4 linked regions of the Homo sapiens genome follow. The protein of the gene in region 1 interacts with the protein of each later gene in a biochemical or structural test. Each region holds a gene or a part of one and is shown on either strand. Other genes may lie near its edges. The genes, in order: PRKCI, IKBKB, CCNT1 and PARD3.

Region 1 (7,047 bases):
CCTCCCAAAGTGCTGGGATTACAGGCATGAGCCATGGCACCCAGCTGAAGTGACTTGTTTTTATTAAAAGCTTTATTATCAGAAGTAGAAATTATGTGAAACATAGAGAGATGCAATATAGGAAATTCCAGGAAGATGGTGTAACTGAAAACGTTAGATAGATACAAAACCTTAAACACGTATCTGGGAAATTTGGAGAGCAGTGCAAGGAGGTAGAACAGCATGATCTTCTCTGGACTAAATCAAGAAAGGGAAAACAAGGGAGTTTTTCTGGAAAGACAAAATGCAATCTCGTAGTCATAGAATGATCAACTCTATGAAATGCAGGCTCTTTTTTTTTTGCCCCAAGTAGCTTTAAGAAGTAGAAGTTCCATCCTTGTCTGTTCTTTACTTGACCATTGTGGTAGTTAGGAAAATTCTGAGTACAATGGAGTGAGAAGTGAAAACCAGAGGTCCTGTATCTCTATGTCTTAGTCATACTAAAAAATTTAAACATATCTTATAGAGTCATTTGTTTAGAAGGAAGTGTTTGATTAATTTGTAAAGAAGAGAAATGTTTTAAAAATAACGAAAGTACTTGTTAAAAGCAGTACTTGGCTACCAGGTTGTGATGCTTGCTCTCTTTACCCTCACTAAAGATTAGGATTTAACTATTGTATTTACATACAATTTGTTATTAGTAGGACAGATAGTCAGTTTTAAATAATGAAAATTTATTCAGAAGTAAAAACTAAAATAAAAATCAGGAGACAATTTTTATTTCAAACTCATTAATGGTTGCTGTTTTTTTCTCCTGCACCTTTTTTTTTTTTTTTTTTAATGTTTGGTATTGGGTTTTTAGTAATTCCATATAATCCTTCAAGTCATGAGAGTTTGGATCAAGTTGGTGAAGAAAAAGAGGTAAGATAATTTGTCTTATTGTACATTATATCATTAGCTTTTTAATAAGGCTCAGGAGTTTAAAAGTATGACATATTGACCTGCTTAGACTTTAGATCATAATGGTGAAATGCAAAAATGATTTGTAATGATTCCAGAGTTTTATTCTGATTTAATTTAGTAATTAAATTACTAATTTAAACTAGGAAATAATTTAGTGGGATAACTTATTTTCATTTTAAAATAGCTTAATCTGAAAATTACAATGTATTTAAGGATACTGTTTAAAATACTTGGTAGTATTGTTTAAAATATATAGTAGACCCTTCCGTTTTGTGCCTGAATTGCTTATTTAGACAATAAATGATTAAACATATTAACTGTCATTGTTTTTTTGACTATTAAGTATTTTATCAGTTTTTAAAACAAAACAAATAATTAAAATGATTTGATTAAAATAATAATCAGTTTTTTGAAAAAAGCTTATAGTGAAAAAGATAATCATGTCTCCCACCTTCCACTCCCAGTTTGGCTTCTTGGCAACCTTTTAAACCATTTCTAGTTATGTCCATAATATTTATATTTCTGTTTTTCAATTTTTTATTTTTGTGTATTTCTGGACATGAAAGATTTAGTTCACACTGCCTCCTCTCTTTCCCGTATCATTCTTTTTTTTTTTTTTTTTGAGTTGGGGTCTTGCTGTGTTGCCCAGGCTGGAGTGCAGTGGTGTGATTATGGCTCACTGCAACCTTAAACTCCTGGGCTCAAGTTATCTTCCCACCTTAGCCTCCCGAGTAGCTAGGACTATAGCCCTGTGCCACCACACCCAGCTAATTTTTTCATTTTCTATTTTGTAGAGACAGAGTCTCACTATGTTGCCCAAGCTAGTCCCGAACTCCTGGCCTCAAGCAGTTCTCCCAAATCAGCCTCTCTAAGTGTTAGGATTACAGGCATGAGCCACCATGCCCAGCCAAAACTTTGAAACATAAATAAAAGTAAACAATAATATAACAAAGCCCTTGTATCTATTGTTAGTTAAAACAGCTATCAATTCATGTCTAGCCTTATTTTGTCTACTCACTTCCCTCACTCCTGTATTATTTTGAAGAAACCTGTTAGTCACCTATTTGATGTTATGTTTTAGTTTCTTGTTCTGTTTGTCTGAAAAAGTCTTTTTTTCTTTTTAACTTTTTTTTTTCTTTTTATTTTTTTTGTGAGACAGGATTATTGCACAGGCACCCGTGCAGTGGTGCAATGATGGCTCACTACAGCCTCAACTTCTTGAGTTCAAGCCACCTCAGCCTCTCAGGTAGCTGGGACTACAGGCATGTGTCACCACTGGACCCTCATCACAATATACAAAAATTTACTCAAGGTGGAATAAAGATTTAAATGTAATACCTCAAACTATAAAAATCCTAGAAGAAAACCTAGGAAATATCCTCTCGACATTGGCCCCGGCAAAGAATTTTTGGCTAAGTCTCCGAAAACAATTGCAACAAAGCCAAAAATTGACAAGTGGGACCTAATTAAACTACAGAGCTTCCACGCAGCAAAAGAATCCACCAATAAACAGACAACCTAAAGAATGGGAGAAAATAGTCACAAACTATACATCCAACAAAGATCTCATATCCAGAATTTATAAGGAACTTAACAGCAAAAAACAACCCCATTAAAAAATGAGCAAAGGGCTGGGCATGGTGGCTTACACCAGTAATCCCAGCACTTTGGGAGGCAGAGTCAGGCAGATCACTTGAGGCCAGGAGTTTGAGATCAGCCTGGCTGACATAGTGAAACCCCATGTCTACTAAAAATACAAAAAAAAAAAAAAAATTAGGGCGTGGTGGCACACACCTATAATACTAGCTACTTAAGAGGTTGAGGCACGAAAATCATTGGAACTGGGGAGGCGGAGATTACAATGAGCCAAGATCATGCCACTGCACTCCAGCCTGGGCGACAGAGCAAGACACTGTTTAAAAAAAGAAAAAAAAAAGGGCAAAGGACATGAACAGACATATCTCAAAATAAGACCTATAAGCAGCCAACACACATGAAAAACCACTCATCGTCACTAATTATCAGAGAAATAGAAATCAAAACCACAGTGAGATACCATCTCACACCAGTCAGAATAGCTGTTACTAAAAAATCAACTTGGGCGTGATGGCTCACACATGTAATCCCAGCACTTTGAGAGGCTAAGGCGGAAGGATTGAGCCTGAGAGTTCAAGAGCAGCCTAGGCAACATAGTCTCTACTAAAAATACAAAAAATTAGCCAGGCTCGGTGGCAGGCGCCTGTAGTCCCAGCTGCTCGGGAGGCTGAGGCAGGAGAATGGTGTGAACCCAGGAGGCGGAGCTTGCAGTGAGCAGAGACTGTACCAGTGCACTCCAGCCTGGGCGAAAGAGCGAGACTCCGTCTCAAAAAAAAAAAAAAAAGAAAATTACAAATAACACTTTTACTGTTTCTCTAGAAGATGCAGTGACCTTGGCACACCTTAAATTCATTCCTTTTCCATTCCTGCCTTTGGGTGTTATTATTATCAGAGTTTAAAATTCTGTGTGTGTGTATATTTGTTTTTTTAAACAGTTACTCCTTATGTAGATTTACCCACATTTTACCCTTTTTGTTTTTCTTTCCTTCCTACGTCTGTTCCTCCATCTGAGATCATGCATTTTCTCCTTCAAGAACTCAATTTAGTTTTTCCTTTAGTGAGCACCTAGTAGTGATGGATCCACTCAGTTTTTCTTTGTCTGAAAATGTTTTTCTTTCACTTTCACTTTGTGAGCTACTTTTGCAGGATAGAGAATTCTAGGTCAGCTGTTTTCTTCTTTTTTAGGCCCTTTGAAGATGACATTTCACTGTTAAGTGGCGTCTATCATTTCATTCAGCCTTATTATTGTGTCGGTGAAGTTAACTCTATCTTTTTTGCTCCACTTGATTCTCTCTTATAGTTTCCAGTTAGCCATATTTCAAGTCTATGTGTTGACTTACTTTCTTACACTTCTCTTCTTTCTTAACCTTCTCAAACCTGGTTTCTTTTCACTCTGCTGTATTTACCCTTGTGTGTTAGTCTGTTTTGTGTTGTTACAAAGGAATACCTGAAGGTTGGGTGTGGCAGCTCACACCTATAATCCTAGGACTTTAGACCGGGAGGATCATTTGAGGCCAGTAGTTCAGGACCAGCCTTGGCAACATAGCAAGACCCTCCATGTCTACAAAAAATAAATAAAAATTAGCCGGGTTTGGAGGCACATGCCTGTAGCCCCAGCTACTTGGGAGACTGAGGCAGGAGGATCACTTGAGCCCAGGAGTTCATGGCTGCAGTGAGCTATGTTCGTGCCACTGCACTGCAGCCTGGGTGACAGAACAAGACCTTTTCTTAAATAAATAAATAAATGAAGGAAGGAATAAAGGAATACCTAAGGCTGGGTAATTTATACAAGATTTATTTGGTGCACGGTTCTGCAGGCTGATCAGTAAGTATTGCACTAGCATCTGCTTCTCAGGAAGCTTTCAGTCTTGGCAGAAGGCAAAGGGGAAGCAGGTGTGCCACATGGCAAGAGAGGGAGCAAGGGAGTCAGGGGAGGTGCCACACTCTGAACTCACTCATTACACAGGAACACACCAAGCCATTCATGAGGAATCTGTCCCTGTGACCCAAACACCTCCCACTAGGGATCACATTTCAGCATGAGATTTGAGATTTGGAGGGGTCAGATATACAAACTATCACCTTGTTACCAAATCAAATTATTATTATTATTACTATTATTGACAGGGTCTCACTTTGTGATGCAGGCTGGAGCGCACTGGCACAATCACAGCTCACTGCAACCTTGACCTGCCTGGCTCAGGTGATCCTCCCACCTCAGCCTCCCAGGTAGCTGGGACTACAGTGCACACCACCAACATCCGGCTAATTTTTGTATATTTTGGTAGAGATGAGGTTTCTTGGCACATTGCCCAGGCTGGTCTTGAACTCCTGGGCTCAATCAGTCCACCTGCTTCAGCCTCCCTAAGTGCTGAAAATACAGGCATGAGCCACTGTGCGCAGCCTAAATTATTATTTCTAAGTTTTTAAGTTGTCATTCTCACTCAGTTTTTCTAATACCCTTCTTTCAGTTTTGTGCTTGCGGGTTTCTTTATCTTTCTCAAAATTTACTATTTGCTTTTCTTGGTATTCTTCACTTCAGAGATTTCATACTTTATTCTCATGGGTCCATTGTGTGCTGATGATTTTGCAGGCATCTAATAAAAGACTGTCTTCAGGCTTCTCTGTAAATTGCTAGAAGCTTACATTTGTAGTTGTGAATGAATTTTAAGGCTTACTTTGTCGTCCCAAAGGGGTCTTGGTATTCTGTGGAAAAGAATGTCTTCCATTCGCTGAACTACTTCATGCTTGTTTTCTGTCTATAGCATCCAAAAACGCCTCTGAATGTGTGCTCTCACTAGCTTACATTCTATGTATCAAGCTTCCAGCAGACTCTTTCATCTTGATGTCTCATTATAACTTCTGAATTTATCATGAAAAACCCAATCGTTCTCTCCAGTAACTTTGTCAATCTTATCCTAGCCACACACTTGACGTTCCCTGTCAGTGGTACCCCCAATCTCTTGGTCACCAAGGTTAATGTGTTTTTTTAATTCCTGCATCTCTATTGCCTCTGTACCCAAAAGTTATCGTATCCTTTTTAAGACATCCTTCGATGTTTTTGTGATTTCAACTCCCTCCCCATTCTTATTACCATCCCTCTTATCTCAAAATTCATCCATATAATCTGGATAGTTAGATTATTTGGTTTGGAATGACATTTGAAAAATATTAAGAACTTAAAATATTTTTATGTTAGGAAAATATCTTTAAATCGTTATAGGTACAACTAGGTGTTAGAAATATAATGTACTACGCAAAGCATTTCCCATTATAACTCTGATACAAATGTTCTCAACAGGCAATGAACACCAGGGAAAGTGGCAAAGCTTCATCCAGTCTAGGTCTTCAGGATTTTGATTTGCTCCGGGTAATAGGAAGAGGAAGTTATGCCAAAGTACTGTTGGTTCGATTAAAAAAAACAGATCGTATTTATGCAATGAAAGTTGTGAAAAAAGAGCTTGTTAATGATGATGAGGTAAGCACTGCATATTTTATTGCTTCTAAACTGCTTGAGAATACTATTCTTTTTTTTTTTTGAAACGGAGTTTCGCTCTTGTCACCCAGCCTGGAGTGCTAGTGGTGCAATCTTGGCTCACTGCAACCTCTGCCTCCCAGGTTCAAGTGATTCTCCTGCCTCAGCCTCCCAAGTAGCTGGGATTACAGGCATGCACCACTATGCCCAGCTAATTTTTGTATTTTTAGTAGAGATGGGGTTTCACCATGTTGGCCAGGCTGCTCTTGAACTCCTGACCTCAAGTGATCCACCCGCCTCAGCCTCCCAAAGTTGCTAGGAATATAGGCGTGAGCCACCGCACCCAGCCAAGAGTACTATTTTAAAGAAAACCTCTATGTTTGTGCTTTATTATCTCATTCTGCTTTTCTAAATATGTGCTAAGTAAATGAAATATATTATTTCGGTTTACTTTTCTTATAGATGGTATAAGATATTTAAAGTAATTTGATTATTAGATTTTTTTAAAAAAACAAAAATCAAACCACATTATTATCAGGAGAAATACTTGAGCTTTGTAAAAGTTTTCTAGACAGTTTTATAATACTGAAAGATTGACTAGTGTTATTTTTCTCTTTGTATGTAAATTTTCGTTTCATGATTATCAATGGTTTTGATATTTAGCCTAGTTAACCATTGCATTTGTGACCATTGAATTGCTCAGAGCAAATTTATCATTAATTGTGATATCAGTTTGACATAGATTTCTTACATGTTTCAAAATAGGATATTGATTGGGTACAGACAGAGAAGCATGTGTTTGAGCAGGCATCCAATCATCCTTTCCTTGTTGGGCTGCATTCTTGCTTTCAGACAGAAAGCAGGTAAGATTGAAAGATAGTAGAATGATTACTGGGCTTCATATTTTTGGTCATATTACACAGTTAGAACCTTTCTGCCCTAATTCATGAAGTTGATATCATGGAGGATGCAACAGTGTTAGGCTTATAACTTCCTGCTAATAATACTGCCATCAGTGATATCAGTTTGATATT
Region 2 (2,706 bases), on another chromosome or scaffold:
TCCTGTACAGTTTGAATATGTAACTTAGCTTAAGAGTACCCTGCAGTCACAAGATTTATTAATAAAAGGGTTTGGCTTTTTAATTTGTATTTGTTTAATTTATTTGTTTTATGCAGCCTGGGTCTTGCTATGTTGCCCAGGCTGGTCTTGAACTCCTGGCCTCAAGCGATCCGCTCGCCTCTGCCTCCCAAAGTGCTGGAACTATAGGCATGAGCCACCATACCCAGCCAATAAAGGGGTTTCAATATATTTCTTTTTATTTTTTATTTTTTGAGATGGAGTCTTGCTCTTTTGCCCAGGGTGGAGTGCAATGGCACGATCTCAGCTCACTGCAACCCCTACCTCCCAGGTTCAAGTGATTCTCCTGCCTCAGCCTCCTGAGTAGCTGGGACTATAGGAGCTTGCCACCACGCCTGGCTAATTTTGTATTTTTAGTAGAAATGGGGTTTCACCATTTTGGCCAGGCTGGTCTCGAACTCCTGACCTCATGATCTGCCCACCTTGGCCTCCCAAAGTGTTGGGATTATAGGCATGAGCCACTGTGCCTGGCTGGGTTTTAGTATATTTCTCAATTGTCCTGATTTCCTCCTGAAGAGGAAAAATAACCTGAAATGTGTTGGTGGCTGTTGTTTTTTTAACATGTCTGTTGACTTTCAGGCCCTAGACTGGAGCTGGTTACAGACGGAAGAAGAAGAGCACAGCTGCCTGGAGCAGGCCTCATGATGTGGGGGGACTCGACCCCCTGACATGGGGCAGCCCATAGCAGGCCTTGTGCAGTGGGGGGACTCGACCCCCTGACATGGGGCTGCCTGGAGCAGGCCGCGTGACGTGGGGCTGCCTGGCCGCGGCTCTCACATGGTGGTTCCTGCTGCACTGATGGCCCAGGGGTCTCTGGTATCCAGATGGAGCTCTCGCTTCCTCAGCAGCTGTGACTTTCACCCAGGACCCAGGACGCAGCCCTCCGTGGGCACTGCCGGCGCCTTGTCTGCACACTGGAGGTCCTCCATTACAGAGGCCCAGCGCACATCGCTGGCCCCACAAACGTTCAGGGGTACAGCCATGGCAGCTCCTTCCTCTGCCGTGAGAAAAGTGCTTGGAGTACGGTTTGCCACACACGTGACTGGACAGTGTCCAATTCAAATCTTTCAGGGCAGAGTCCGAGCAGCGCTTGGTGACAGCCTGTCCTCTCCTGCTCTCCAAAGGCCCTGCTCCCTGTCCTCTCTCACTTTACAGCTTGTGTTTCTTCTGGATTCAGCTTCTCCTAAACAGACAGTTTAATTATAGTTGCGGCCTGGCCCCATCCTCACTTCCTCTTTTTATTTCACTGCTGCTAAAATTGTGTTTTTACCTACTACTTTGGTGGTTGTCCTCTTTTCGGCAAAGTTGGAGCGAGTGCCAAGCTCTCCATCTGTGGTCCTTTCTGCCAAGAGCGACTCATAGTAACCAGGATGGGAGAGCAGCTGCCTTATTCTGAATCCCAAAAATTACTTGGGGGTGATTGTCACAGAGGAGGGACAGAAAGGGTATCTGCTGACCACCAGCCTGCCTACCCATGCCCATGTCTCCATTCCTGCTCAAGCGTGTGTGCTGGGCCGGGGAGTCCCTGTCTCTCACAGCATCTAGCAGTATTATTAAATGGATTCATTTTAAAAATAGCTCCTATATTTTGTAACATGTCTCAAACACTCATACTGGGTTCCACAATCCACTGTTAGAATACCTATGGTTAGGGCTTCTGAACTAAAATAATGGAAAATTTTAACAATTTGTATAGTGCCTGGATCATTACTAGTGCCATAACCCTGCTTCTTCAACATTTCACAGAACTTCTCTTTTATATAAAGGCAAGAGCACAAAATGAGTTCAGATGATCACAAACAGGTGAGTTTTGTTGGAGAAGAAAGTTGGAGTAGGAGACTTTCACAAGTGGTTTCCATGGAGATAGAATGAAGCATTCTGTGGTCAAGTAAGTTTAGGGAGCTATTCATGTTTCACTTGCTTTGTGGAGATTCACACTATGCACTGGGAAAGTATCTGAAAAGTCTTATAATAAAGAAACAGGCTTAACTTTGTGTAAGAACACTGTTTATCAATGTCATTTGGCTATAGAAACATTTTCTCCTGCTGATTGTGTGTGTGAAACATGTATTAACATTCCAATGAACTAGCATTTAATAAAGCACAATTTTGGAAACCCTGGTAAATGACAGTGGGAAATAACACCCGAAAGGCAAGGACGGGCAGATTGGGGAGGGAAAGGATGTTGGGCTAAGGGCTGTGAGCTTATGTTACAGGCAACTGAGCCACTGAAGAATTTTGACGAAGAAAATGCCAACCAAAGCAGTCATTTTAAAAGTTTATGGCTGTTCAGTTACAGGACAAGTTGTGAAAAGAAAGAAAAAAAATGGAAAAAAAAAAAGTTTATGGCTGAAACAGTGTAATTGATTAAAAAGTGAAAATCCAGGCCGGGCGCGGTGGCTCACGCCTGTAATTCCAACACTTTGGGAGGCTGAGGCAGGCAGATCACCTGAGGTCGGGAGTTCGAGACCAGCCTGACCAATATGGAGAAACCCCGTCTCTACTAAAAATACAAAAGCCAGGCGTGGTGGGACATGCCTGTAATCCCAGCTACTCGGGAGGCTGAGGCAGGAGAATCGCTTGAACCTAGGAGGCAGAGGTTGCAGTGAGCAGAGATTGTGCCATTGC
Region 3 (4,797 bases), on another chromosome or scaffold:
GAAAAATGGAGGGTTTCTTGTATCAGACAATTGTGGATCCTTTCGGTGTTTAATATATCAGAAGAGAGGAAGTATTTAAACGTCAAATCTTTTAATAGACTTAATAATTTAAAGAAAGTAAGTTATCTGTTTAGTTTTTTTATATAATTGGGAAGGGGATAGGGATTTTGCTGTGTGTATATGATACATAGCAGTAACTCCTGGTGGGTGGGATTGGAGGGTGGGAATGTGTGAGGGTGGGTGGGAGGCTAGGTTTTTGGCTAGGAGTTCTGAAATAGGCTCAGGCCACTTTTTTCAGACTTTTAAGTGTGTATGTAAGTGTGGGTATGTGTGTTTTTAAGTGTGTGTGTTTAAAAATAATGTTTTATCTTCCCTCCCTGTTCCTTACCGTTTTCATTTTCCAACAGTCTACTAGAGAAAAACATGGTTGGCCTTGAGAACATAAAGGAAGAGGCATGTATTTGACATGGTATTTTTCCCTTTCTTTATGTTATAATTGAGTAGTAGCCCTCTAATTTGTAGTTTGGGCAAGTACAGCCAACACCCTGACTCTTAACCTTATTATGAGAACTTCCTTTTTACCCCTTTTTTTGTTTTTGTGCAAAACAGAGATGGGGTTGAGGAAGGAGGGTTGGCGAGCAAGGCCAGCTTCTGCCCTACAGAATTGGGTGTGTCTTTTTTTTCAAGTGAGGCTTTGGGAAAGTGTTCAAATGAGAGCAGTCTTAAGGTCTCTAAGAGATGGGGAATGTGCTATGTATATCCTGCCTGTGAAAGCCCAAACCATATGGGAGAAGCTAGAGGATACTAAAAACAATGAAATTGTGATTTGGAAGTTTAGAACATTGTTTTAAAAATTACATTATAAATGTAAGACATGCTTTTTATGTGTATATCCGAAGGGAAACAGCTACATCCTCAAGTTTTTGCAGCCTATATGACTTGAGATTGGAGCTTGTGAATTTAACAGTACTGGTGCCATGAGAATGAGCAAAGCCTAGCCAATGGATACTATTGTGTTTAGATTGTTCATCTTTGGTAGCTTTAGGTTCTTGATCGAGGTTCTTAAGATTTCTAAGTCCTTTATAAAAATAGGTCAAGAGTCCTGTTGTTATGGAGGCTTGATTATCCCAGATATTAGGAGTGAACATTTTTAATAAATCTTTCAGAAAATCTTGGCTAGAAAGAATTCTAAGTTAGTTGTCTAACCACTGAAAACTACCTAGCCAGAGATCATTTAATGAGATATTCTTTGATCTTCATTGCATTTTTTTTGCTCTGGAAAAGGTGGTTCAATTTGAGTTTGTTTTCATGATTTGATTGCAGCTTACTTCATGCCAAGGATTTTTTAGGGAGAGGTCGAATTATTTTTCATTTGGAAGTCATAGGGAGACAGGAGTTGTACTTATGCTGCTACTTGCCAGGAACAGGTTGGGAAGAAAATTGTGGCTGTTGGAATTGATGATGTACTGGCCTAATATAGAAAGGAATTTGTAGGCAGGAGTAAACGTTAACTGACGGTGGGTTAGTGCCCTGCATCTTGCATATTTGAACTGTCTAGAGTTCCTGCCATTGCTGGGTATAAAACGAGGAGCTCTCTGTTGACCTGTAAATCATTAATACTTCTTGACTTAGAGTGTCACTTCACTTTATAGATGACATTTTCCTCTTTCCCCTTGATATTTTCTATGTTGTGTTAGATAATTGGTAGATATATAGTTGTGGTTTAGTACATTTAGGGCTTCTATTTATTTAGATTTTGTTTGTTGGAGTCTGTTTCCAAAAGGGAATGTGCCATTTAGTCTGCATCTGTATCTTTGTGGACTTGATGATCACTGGTTTGATTTTGAAAAATGTCTTTTCCAGCTTTTAGTTACTCTCATCAAATGTCACATATTTTCTAATCACATGCACTCCTTTACCACAGAGGCACATAATCATTTGGCCTCATAGCAGTTATCCATGGCCGTACTGTAGTAAAGTTCCTTAGAACTTTGCCAGGAGTGAACTAGAAAAAAGTGCTTACTAGGGCCTAAGAGTTGCTTTGTGCCGTGTAGTCCGGCCTTTGCACTAGTAGATCATTGCTGACATAGGTCAGTTTAGAGACCTTTCTGTGTTAATGCCTCCTGGTACTGTCTTAAGATACGTACAGTGTCTGTTTTTAGATCTATGCATATGTCATGAAGCTCCTTGTGGGCTCTGCATGAAGCTGCTGCTTTGTTTTTGGGTTAACAGATGTGCCTGTCAACTAGCATGTGTATTGTCCAAATTCCATAAACTTAAGGTTTTTAAGGGCTGTGTGGTTTCTGAGCTCTATGTGTCTTTCCTATCCTTGTACCTTCAAAGGGTGAGAAATGAGATTTATACATCCAAAGTTAGTCTGATAAATATGGCTTTTTGTTTCTCCATGTAACCTAGACTGTCAAAAATAAGTGATGGTGATAAGTAGGCCTGGAGCCTCAGCTTCTGTAAATCTCATTCCTAAAATTTTGCTAGACTCGTGTTGGCAAAAACAAATACCTGTGGATTGTCCTTAAGGCTTTTAATCAGATACCTGTGTTGCTGTTAGCTGAACTGTAGTGAAGCATCGATCCAAATCGGTCTTCTGAAGTATCAGTTATGCTTTTGAGTTTAGAAAATACTTAGGTGTTAGTCTAGTCTTCCCATTCATGAATCAGTGTATGTCCATATCAGAGAGCCTCAACTTCTTTTTTCTTCCTTTTTAAAAATGATTTTAGTGTTTTGATTTAGTGTATACTACATAGTTCAGTATTATTGGCTTTACCAGTGTTGACAGAAAAATTTTAAATCTCCAGTTGCAAACAGCAATGGATTAGGATATGGAAATAAAATCATGGTGACATCACTGCTGAGTTATCTTAAACCTCTGCTACTTAATTCTCCATATTGAAATGCATACTCCTCCACATACATGGCTTCCAAGTAAAGGCAATTGTAGAGGGGCCCTGTCTATCCCAGTATGGTTGGATTTTAAACATATCTGTGTTTCCGTTATTTTGGGAACTGATTAATATTTACAATTTTTTTTGTTTATGAGTTATTTTGATACTAAGAAAAGAGAGAATCTAGAACATCTTGCAGTTGAAATACAAATTTTATTCTTTTGGTCTTGGGAGAATTTAAGCAGTCTATGCAACTCATCAAATGGTGAGAAATAGCCCTCCGAGGTTCCAGTAAGCTTTCAGTGACTTTGATACCTCCCCAAGTTTCTTGAGTTGCTGCTTGTTAACACCCAGCTTTTAACTGAGTGTTTGCTCCTGATGGTTTAGGAGATTTTCATGTTGTATCACACTGTCAAGTTTTATTTTGTCTTTTTATCCCTCCGTGGATGTGAGTTTGAAACAAGCACGGTACAGTAATCCTGCCTGATAGAGTAGTCTGGAATGAGAATTACTTTTTGGGTGAGAGAGTTCTCCATTTTAATGTTTCTAAAGTTTTTCATATGAACTTGGCATTGGAAAAGGGAGGTAAAGAAAAAGGACGTTTACTAAAAGCAGTGTCTACTCTTCCCCTTTGTGAGTGTTTATTCATGGCTAATGAAAAAAAGAGAAGGACTCTTGGGTTTTGTGTTGCCATGTTAAGCATGGAGAGGGATGCTTGACAGCATGCTAATTGAAGCCAGAGCAAGTATGTCCTTCATCAGGTAATCAGGAACTCTTCAGTTGAAGCTGAGGAACTAACTGATTAGTTGTTGATCATAATATAATTGGTTACAAAGTGGAAGTGCCAGCTGGCTTAAGTACCCAAAGAAAAGAATGCAGCAGCCTAACTTAGTGTTACCATATGTTACTGAATTTGAAACTGACCTTTTTTCCCACCCTACTTCACACACCTAAAACTCTTTTCTTGTCAGACCAAAGAGCGAAAAGAAAAAAAAAAGTAAAACACTTTACCAATCTGTCACTCAGGTACAATTTTGTGGTGAGATTTTTGTCTGTTCTCTTTGTATTGCTCTTAAGAGTCCTTTCTCAGCATATTATTCTGCCATTGCCTCTGTCTTCCTTGGGGCACCTCAGCTCTGGATGCTACCCCTGGGATATCTACTGCTGTTATGTGAATGATAGGAGGTAAGTGACCATTATAGTAAGGGCTCTTTGTAAAAAAATTCAAAAAATTTAAAAAGGATGTATACATTTTATAGTCTGGCTATCAGTTTGATATCTTGCTGTCAAGTATGTTTCTCAATCTGTATTTATCCATCCCATCAATAAATGTTAATGGTAAAACACTCATTTGATTGTTGTTTATGTGTACTGTCCTCAAATTAGTCCTTAGTCTTTTTTTTTTTTTTTTTGAGACGGAATCTAGCCCTGTCACCCAGGCTGGAGAGTACAGTGGCGTGATCTCGGCTCACTGCAACCTCTGCTTCCCGGGTTCAAGCGATTCTCCTGTCTCAGCCTCCTGAGTTGCTGGGATTACAGGCACCCACCACTATGCCCAGCTAATTTTTGTATTTTTAGTCGAGACGGGGTTTCACTGTGTTGGCCAGGCTGGTCTCGAACTCTTGACCTCAGGTGATCTACCCACCTCGGCCCCCCAAAGTGCTGGGATTACAGGCATGAGCCACCGCGTCCAGCCTAGTCCTTAGTCTTTAACTGTAATTTTATTGATATGTTTACAATTTTGTTTCAATTTTGGTATTAGTCTGTTTTCTTATTGTGCAAGATCCTGTGGGAATTGAGTCCGTTGGAAAGACCCAAGATTTGTCGATCAGTAAACCCAGTAGTATAAAGTATGTTGTAGTCAAAGGGAAGAAAAAAACCCTCACTCTGTATTGTT
Region 4 (7,047 bases), on another chromosome or scaffold:
GGGCAGATCATGTTTATGGCTTTGGATAATAACCAACCAAGCCAAAAATAAAAAATAAAAAGGAAAAGAGAAAGGTCCCAACTCTCAAATCACCAAGGCTTTCTCTGCAGTAAACATTTTCTGGTGTGGTGGGGCTAATTTTCTGGCATTGCATGTGAGCTGTTTTCTCTTCAGATTACACAAATCAATTTTTCTGGATAGTGAAGTGTCATGATTTAATACTAGACATGTCCTCAGTGAGTAGATATTTGAAGGCTTATGCTTAGTCATGTGTGACATTTCTTTTTTCCTCTCCTGAAAGATGGTTTTGTGGTTGTGATCACTGATGGTTGGGAATAGCTGTTCATCCTCATCCACCCATCTGCATTAGGAGCCTCGCTGAGGACAGTGCGGTGCTAGACATTGGGAACCGCGTTACATGGACCGTTCTCATGAGGGCGCAGGATGGGAGGATGGACCGTGTCTGCATCTGTTCTTCTGCGCTTGCGACCTGACACGCGTGATTCCAGGTGGACATGGTGCTGAGCTGCAGCGCTGTGTGGGGTTGGTTGAAGGGCTGCTGTGTATAAAAAGTCATGCTCTATGAAAAAAATATAAGACTGAATTCGTGCAATTTTCAAAAAAAAGTATAATCTAGGAGACAGGAAGAATATATAACAGTATAAATAACAGGAGGTGGTAGCATTAATTGGCACCACTGTGATACAGTCAGTAATCGCTTCTGGATTTTGGAGGTGGGTGCTATCATTATGGGGTGTGTGTGGGAGTCTCATTTAGTCACTAGGATTTGAACTGGGCTTGGTTGGTGGGAAGGCTGACCTTGATATAGGGCAGTGCTTGCTAACTGGGTGAGGCACCTGCCTGCAGGGGCAGATGGGCTCTGGGTCTGAGGTCTGCAGTTGGGGTCTAGGTGTGTGAATCTGCAGAATGTCTGCTACGATTCTGATAAGTGAAAGGGAGGGCATTCCAGGAAGGCAGTATGGACAAAGGCGATTCAGGCATTCAGCCCAGGGGGTCAGGATCAAACTGAGGAGGACAGAATGCCAGGGCAAGACCCTGAGACTTCGTGCAGTAGGAAGGACTGTGGTGTTTAGCTAAGAGTCAGGGTAACAAGTAGTTCTAGGAGGATGACCTGAGCAACCTTAGATGAGGTTTGGATGGATAATTCCTTAGCATTTCATTCTAAATAAAGGTTGCTGAGTGACCAAAAGGGGAAGGAGAGAGTGAAGGGCAAAAGTGAGGGCAAGGAGGTGCTGGAGCCCCTTTGCTCACTGTTCCCACCTCCCTCATAGCTCTCCTCTCAGCCTGTAGGGGAGCTTTGGATTGGGTTTGGTGACTTAGGTTTACAAGCCATTTAACCTTGGGTATAGGGGAGCTTTGTATTGGGTTTGGTGACTTAGGTTTACAGGCCATTTAACCTTGGGTACACCAACCCTACGGAGCCCCATTATCTCAAGTGGAATATTCCCTGGCAGGGTTAATGTAAGTATTAAACAGGATGATGAGAGGGAAACTCTAAAGTCCTGGGCCCGGCCCATACTAGCTGCTCCGTAAAGATGAATGGAATCACCAATATGTTTTATCCACCAAGCAGTTTTACACCCAGGGAACTTTCCCAGGTGTCCCACTATTGCTGCTTGGATTTTTCCTGTTTACTTAAAAACGCAGCATGTAATTTCATTGAAGGATAGGTAAGAATGTGAGATTGAATGACGTGCAGCACCACAATCAGGAGAACAAAATTGTGTGTTGCATGTGTGTATGGGCTGGGGAAGTAAAAGCTGCGGGTATTGGCTTGATTACAGGTTGATTATTGGGGCCTCTGGCTTCTGTCCCCAAGCACATCACTTTAGAGTGATTTAATAGCAACCTGTTGTTATTACAGGTTGAGCATCCTTTATCCAAAATACTTGGGACCACACAAGTATTTTGGATTTTTCTGGACTTTGGGATATTTTTGTATATATAATGAGATAGGTTGAAGATGGAACCCAAGTCTAATGTATTGTTAGAATTTATGTTTCCTACGTACCTTATACACATAGCCTGAAGGTAATTTTATGCAGTATTTTTGTGCTTGAAAATAAGTCTGTGGTAAGTACTTACATGTGGAATTTTCCAGGTGTGGCGTCATGTGGGTGCTCAGTAAGTTTCAGATTTTGGAGTATTTTGGATTTTGGATTTTTCAATTAGGGATGCTTGACCTGTATTTTTTAAAAAGTTGAGCTCATGGACAGAAACTTTTGAAAATGTGCTTTTTTGGTGGCGGGAGACTGTTGATTAGTAACAATGACAGTCATGGTTTTTATGAAAAATCTTGTGGTTGGTATGGAATTTTTCTGTGAATAAATGTATGACTGCATGTTATTCATTTACAAGCGTATTGAAACTTTTAAGAAAATAGTTGTACTGTTGCAGAGATTGAAAGAAAATAGAGGCAAGCATAAAAATAGTGAAATGAAAGCAGCTTTATTTATTTATTTATTTTTTTAACATTTTCTGCCTTCCCTCTAAAAAGGAAAAAGAAACTAAACATTTTTGAAAGGCTGATCTTTCCAGAATTCAAGTCACATTGTCCTCTGGTGCTGAAGCGCCTTTGTCCCGCGTTCTCCAAGTCCTGCCTTCTGAGCACAGCCTGTCCCTGTAGGGACCCCTCTTGCCTTCCAGCCACTCCCTCTGCAGCTGCTCCACCCCCTGGGACTCACATACACTTTGCTGCCTCTGTTCTGGCATTTTCTGTTTCTTCTGCCTGGGACATTTGCTCCTTCCTTGCACTCATTCGTGAGTCTTAGCCCAGACAGCCATCTCCAGGAGGCTGGCTCTCCATCCCAAGCTGCTAGAGGATCTTTCTCCCTGCCTGCTGCCTCTCCTGGGGACGTCCTGGGTGTAGCTCCTGTACCGACTCAGATGCTTGGGCTGTGCTGTGTGGTTTTCAAGTGTATCCGTGCGCCCTTCCTCCCTCCGGGTGAAATGCTTGAAGCGGTGGCTGAGCTTCAGTCTTGGTGAATAGCCCGTGTCTGTCACATTGCAGTCAGAATGTTGAGTAAATAGAAAGCTGAGAATCAACATGTTACACTGCTCTCACACAAAAAATACACTTCTGCTGAGAGGACTATCATCAGCACTCGTGAATTTAAAGGACTTTAAGGTTTGGTGTGTTTGACCTACTGGCACAAACAGCTTGTAATGGAAACTAAGATTTAATGAGGTTTGGAGTACTTGGAAGTTACTCTTTCGTATCAGCTGTCTTGAGGGAGTTCAGTTTGTTTTTCAGCTCAAGCAGAGGACCCTCCTGGGATTCGCCTTGGGCGAGGTTCAAGGCAGGTGGCCAGGGCTGTGTGAGAATCTGGCCCTGGAACACACCTATGCTTGGTCTGGCGCCTCTGATTCCGTCAGTTGAGATGCTTGGCTGAGTGCCAGGACTAAGTAGGAATGTTTAGGATCTGAGATTCTCAGAGAGAATCTGGCGGATGTGAAGCGCTTCTTGGCTTGTGGTAGACATGGATAAATTGGTTGTGGAGGGAATATTTAAAGTCCCACTTGGATGCAAACCCACAGACGGATCCTCCGTCTGTCCTGGGAGGTTCTACCTCCCCACAGAGTTGGGTGCAAGTTGGTGATGTTGAGCTCCCCATAGATGATTAGAGCCCTCGGTATTTTTTATCAAGGATGGAAATAAACATGTAAGATTGGGCCAGAAGGTGCTTTCTATAGGTAATTTTCCATCGGGGGAGATGGCATGCTAAGCCCACACAGCATGCTTTCATCCTGCTTGGCCACTCGCTCAACATTCCTGGCTGGGACCAAGGTCAATGGCAGTAGAGCTGGACATCAGTAAATGTATACAGTTTTACCTGTTTTGGGTACCTTTTCTGTACAAAAGCAAATCTTTATCAAAATAAATGCCGAGTTCAGTGAATAAAGTAGAAAGATGACTGATTTTTTTTTGTCTTTTAGTCATTATTTACAAGTTTTTTCTTTCTTTCTTTTGTTTTTTTTGAGACAGGGTCTTTGTCACCCAGGCTGGAGTGAAGTGGCGTGATCTCTGCTCACTGCAGCCTCAACCTCCCAGGCTCAAGCGATCCTCCTGCCTCAGTCCCCCAAGTAGCTGGGACTACAGTTGTGTGCCGCCACACCTGGCTAATTTTTGTAGTTTTTGTAGAGACGGCATCTCGCCATGTTGGCTAGGCTGATCTCAAACACCTGAGCTCAAGCAATCCACCTGCCTTGGTCCTCCAGAGTGCTGGGATTACAGGCACGAGCCACCATGCCTGGCCTAAATTTTAGCAAATAAGTAAAAATAACTTTGTTTTAACTTATTTAGTAAATAAGTAAACATTTTAGTAAATAAAGTTAAAATAACTTTCGTGTATAGGTCTGTGCCTTCTTGCATCTGGCCTGCTATCTTTACGTGGTTTTTGCCATTTAAATATTACTTTTGTGTATTCCTTTTTTCTCCATCAACTCATATTGGTCCTTGCAAGTAAAATTTCAAGCTCCACATCCAAGTGACTTTAAATATCAATTATTTATTTTTTTCACCTAAACAGAGTATATTTTGTATATAGTCTCTGTACTCTATTCTGTATATATTTTATATATACTCTTTATATATATACACACACACACAAGCACACAAGAGAAATGAAAATGTGTACACAAAACCTGTACATCAGTGTTCATAGCAGCAAGCCCACATATTGTATAATTCTGTTCCTATAACATGACCAGAGTGGGTAGCTCTATAGAGACAGTAGAGTGGTGTTCCGCTAGGACTGGGAGTTTGGAGTCATGGAGACTGTGAATGGGTATGAGGTTTCCTTTTGGGATGATGAAAATATTCTAAGATCATGGTGATGGTTGCACAGTTCTATTCAAGTGTATACTTTCAATGGATGGAGTTTATGGTTATGTGATTATATGTCAATAAAGATGTTAGAAAAATAGACTGCATAAGCCACTATGAACAACGCTCCATTTTTAGGTATTTTGTAGTTCTGAGCATTTCATAAAATGACATATATATGTGTATCAGAGATGCTCAAAACACTTCAAATGAAAACTGGCTGTCTTTAGGAGTTTTCCATATAGTGTGGAATCCCTGCTTTCTCAGGCCTGTCCAATGTGTCCTGTTTAGTGTCTGGTAAGCTCCTGGCTGCTGAGCCTCCAGGTCCCCTGGTCTCTGTGTGCTACCCCCTACCCCCTCTAAGGGCTTCACCAATTGTTCTTTAGCCAGAGACTCCTTCTACCCAGCTCGCCAGCTACCTTTGTGCAGTGGAGGTTGAGAATGCCCCAAGGATGCACGTAATGGACCAGCCTTTCCAGCATTTGGCTTTGGCTCCCAGAAATTTTGAGCTTTGGCAAATCTTACAAGCTCTGTGAGCCTCTGTTTCCCCATGTTCTCATATTCAGAGGTGCTGGGCTGGACTCCCACTGCCAGTTCCCTGAGCTGTGCAGGGACTCCTGCTCTGCATGGTTTGTTTTGGTGCTCATGGGACCATAAGTGATGTGCAGTGGCTTTTCAGATGGTTATACAGGGTCCAGGACCTCTTACTGCTTCCCTCCATGCTGTGAGAATATTTTGCCTCACCCCGACCCCCCCAACTTTGAAATGACGGGGCTTGCTCTCCAGGTCAAATGGATGCTATTCAGAGTTAGGGTAAATTTTGCTTAGGGTTGGCTGGGTGAGAAGGCTCACGCCTGTAATCCCAGAGCTTTGGGAAGCTGAGGTGGGAGGATTGCTTGAGGCCAGGAGTTCAAGACCCAGCCTGGGCAACATAGTGAGACCCCGTCTCTTTTTAAAAAAATTAGCCAGGCATAGGCCGGGTGTGGTGGCTCACGCCTGTAATCCCAGTACTTTGGGAGGCCGAGGTGGGTGGATCACGAGGTCAGGAGTTCGAGCCTGGCCAAAGTAGTGAAACCCCATCTCTACTTAAAGTACAAAAAATAGCTGGGCATGGTGGTGCACACCTATAATCACAGCTACTTGGGAGGCTGAGGCAAGAGAATCACTTGAATCCTGGGAGGCAGAGGTTGCAGTGAGCCAAGATAGCGACACTGCACTCCAGCCTGGGCGATGGGGAGATTCATCTCAAAAAAAAAAAAAAAAAATTAGCCAGACATGGTTGTGTGCATCTTTAGTCCCAGCTGCTCAGGAGGCTGACGTGGGAGGATTGCTTGAGCTCAGGAGTTTGAGATTGCAGTGAACTATGATGGTGTCACTGCACTCCAGCTTGGGTGACACAGCGAGACTCTGTCTCTAACAGAAAAAAAAAATTTGTCTAGGGTGTCCTTCAGAATTTCCTTCCTTCTTCCTTTTTTTTTGTCTTTTTGAGACGGAGTCTCGCTCTGTCGCCCAGGCTGGAGTGCAGTGACGTGATTTCGGCTCACTGCAAGCTCCACCTCCTAGGTTCACGCCATTCTCCTGCCTCAGCCTCCCGAGTAGCTGGGACTACAGGTGCCCACCACCACGCCTGGCTAATTTTTTTGTATTTTTAGTAGAGGTGGGGTTTCACCGTGTTAGCCAGGATGGTCTCGATCTCCTGACCTCGTGATCCGCCTGTCTCAGCCTCCCAAAGTGCTGGGATTACAGGCGTGAGCCACCGCGCCCGGCCCCAGAATTTCTTATTGTCTCAAGGTAAGTATCTTTTAATGTAAATCACATCATGCTCAGAAGTGACTAAGACAATTCCCTTTGTGAATTACAGATGTATGATATTGCATGATACGAACTGTACGGTGTATATATATATATATATATATATATGCACATACGTGTGTATTTCTGGGGTGATCTTTTATGGTGGTATAAATTTAAGTCATTTTAGAGATGATAGTCAAGTCAACATTCTCCCAATCTTGGTGTTTTTAACTATTCAGACACTGTAAGATTTAAGGTTTTGGAACTCAGATGTATATTTTTCTAGTGTCTGGTTTTTCCCTTCTTGTATTTGAGACGGAGTCTCACTTTGTTGCCCAGGCTGCAGTGCAGTGGCAGAGTCTCGGCTCACTGCAACCTCTGCCTCCTGGGTTCAAGCGATTCTCCTG

What was found.
Region 2: the proteins of PRKCI (region 1) and IKBKB form a complex in vitro, tested with the Homo sapiens proteins (one study listed by BioGRID).
Region 3: the proteins of PRKCI (region 1) and CCNT1 form a complex in vitro, tested with the Homo sapiens proteins (one study listed by BioGRID).
Region 4: the proteins of PRKCI (region 1) and PARD3 form a complex in vitro, tested with the Homo sapiens proteins (one study listed by BioGRID).

Annotation. Positions count from the first base shown.
Region 1 is NC_000003.12:170,274,388-170,281,434, forward strand, and holds part of PRKCI (protein kinase C iota type), read left to right. Parts: intron 1-841; coding exon 842-900; intron 901-5,839; coding exon 5,840-6,016; intron 6,017-6,778; coding exon 6,779-6,876; intron 6,877-7,047.
Region 2 is NC_000008.11:42,330,257-42,332,962, forward strand, and holds the end of IKBKB (inhibitor of nuclear factor kappa-B kinase subunit beta), read left to right. Parts: exon of another isoform or gene 1-83; intron 84-657; coding exon 658-723; 3' UTR 724-2,204; downstream 2,205-2,706.
Region 3 is NC_000012.12:48,687,911-48,692,707, reverse strand, and holds the end of CCNT1 (cyclin-T1), read left to right. Parts: 3' UTR 1-4,250; downstream 4,251-4,797. UniProt on the Homo sapiens protein: Regulatory subunit of the cyclin-dependent kinase pair (CDK9/cyclin-T1) complex, also called positive transcription elongation factor B (P-TEFb), which facilitates the transition from abortive to productive elongation by phosphorylating the CTD (C-terminal domain) of the large subunit of RNA polymerase II (RNA Pol II).
Region 4 is NC_000010.11:34,805,262-34,812,308, reverse strand, and holds part of PARD3 (partitioning defective 3 homolog), read left to right. Parts: intron 1-7,047. UniProt on the Homo sapiens protein: Adapter protein involved in asymmetrical cell division and cell polarization processes. Seems to play a central role in the formation of epithelial tight junctions. Targets the phosphatase PTEN to cell junctions.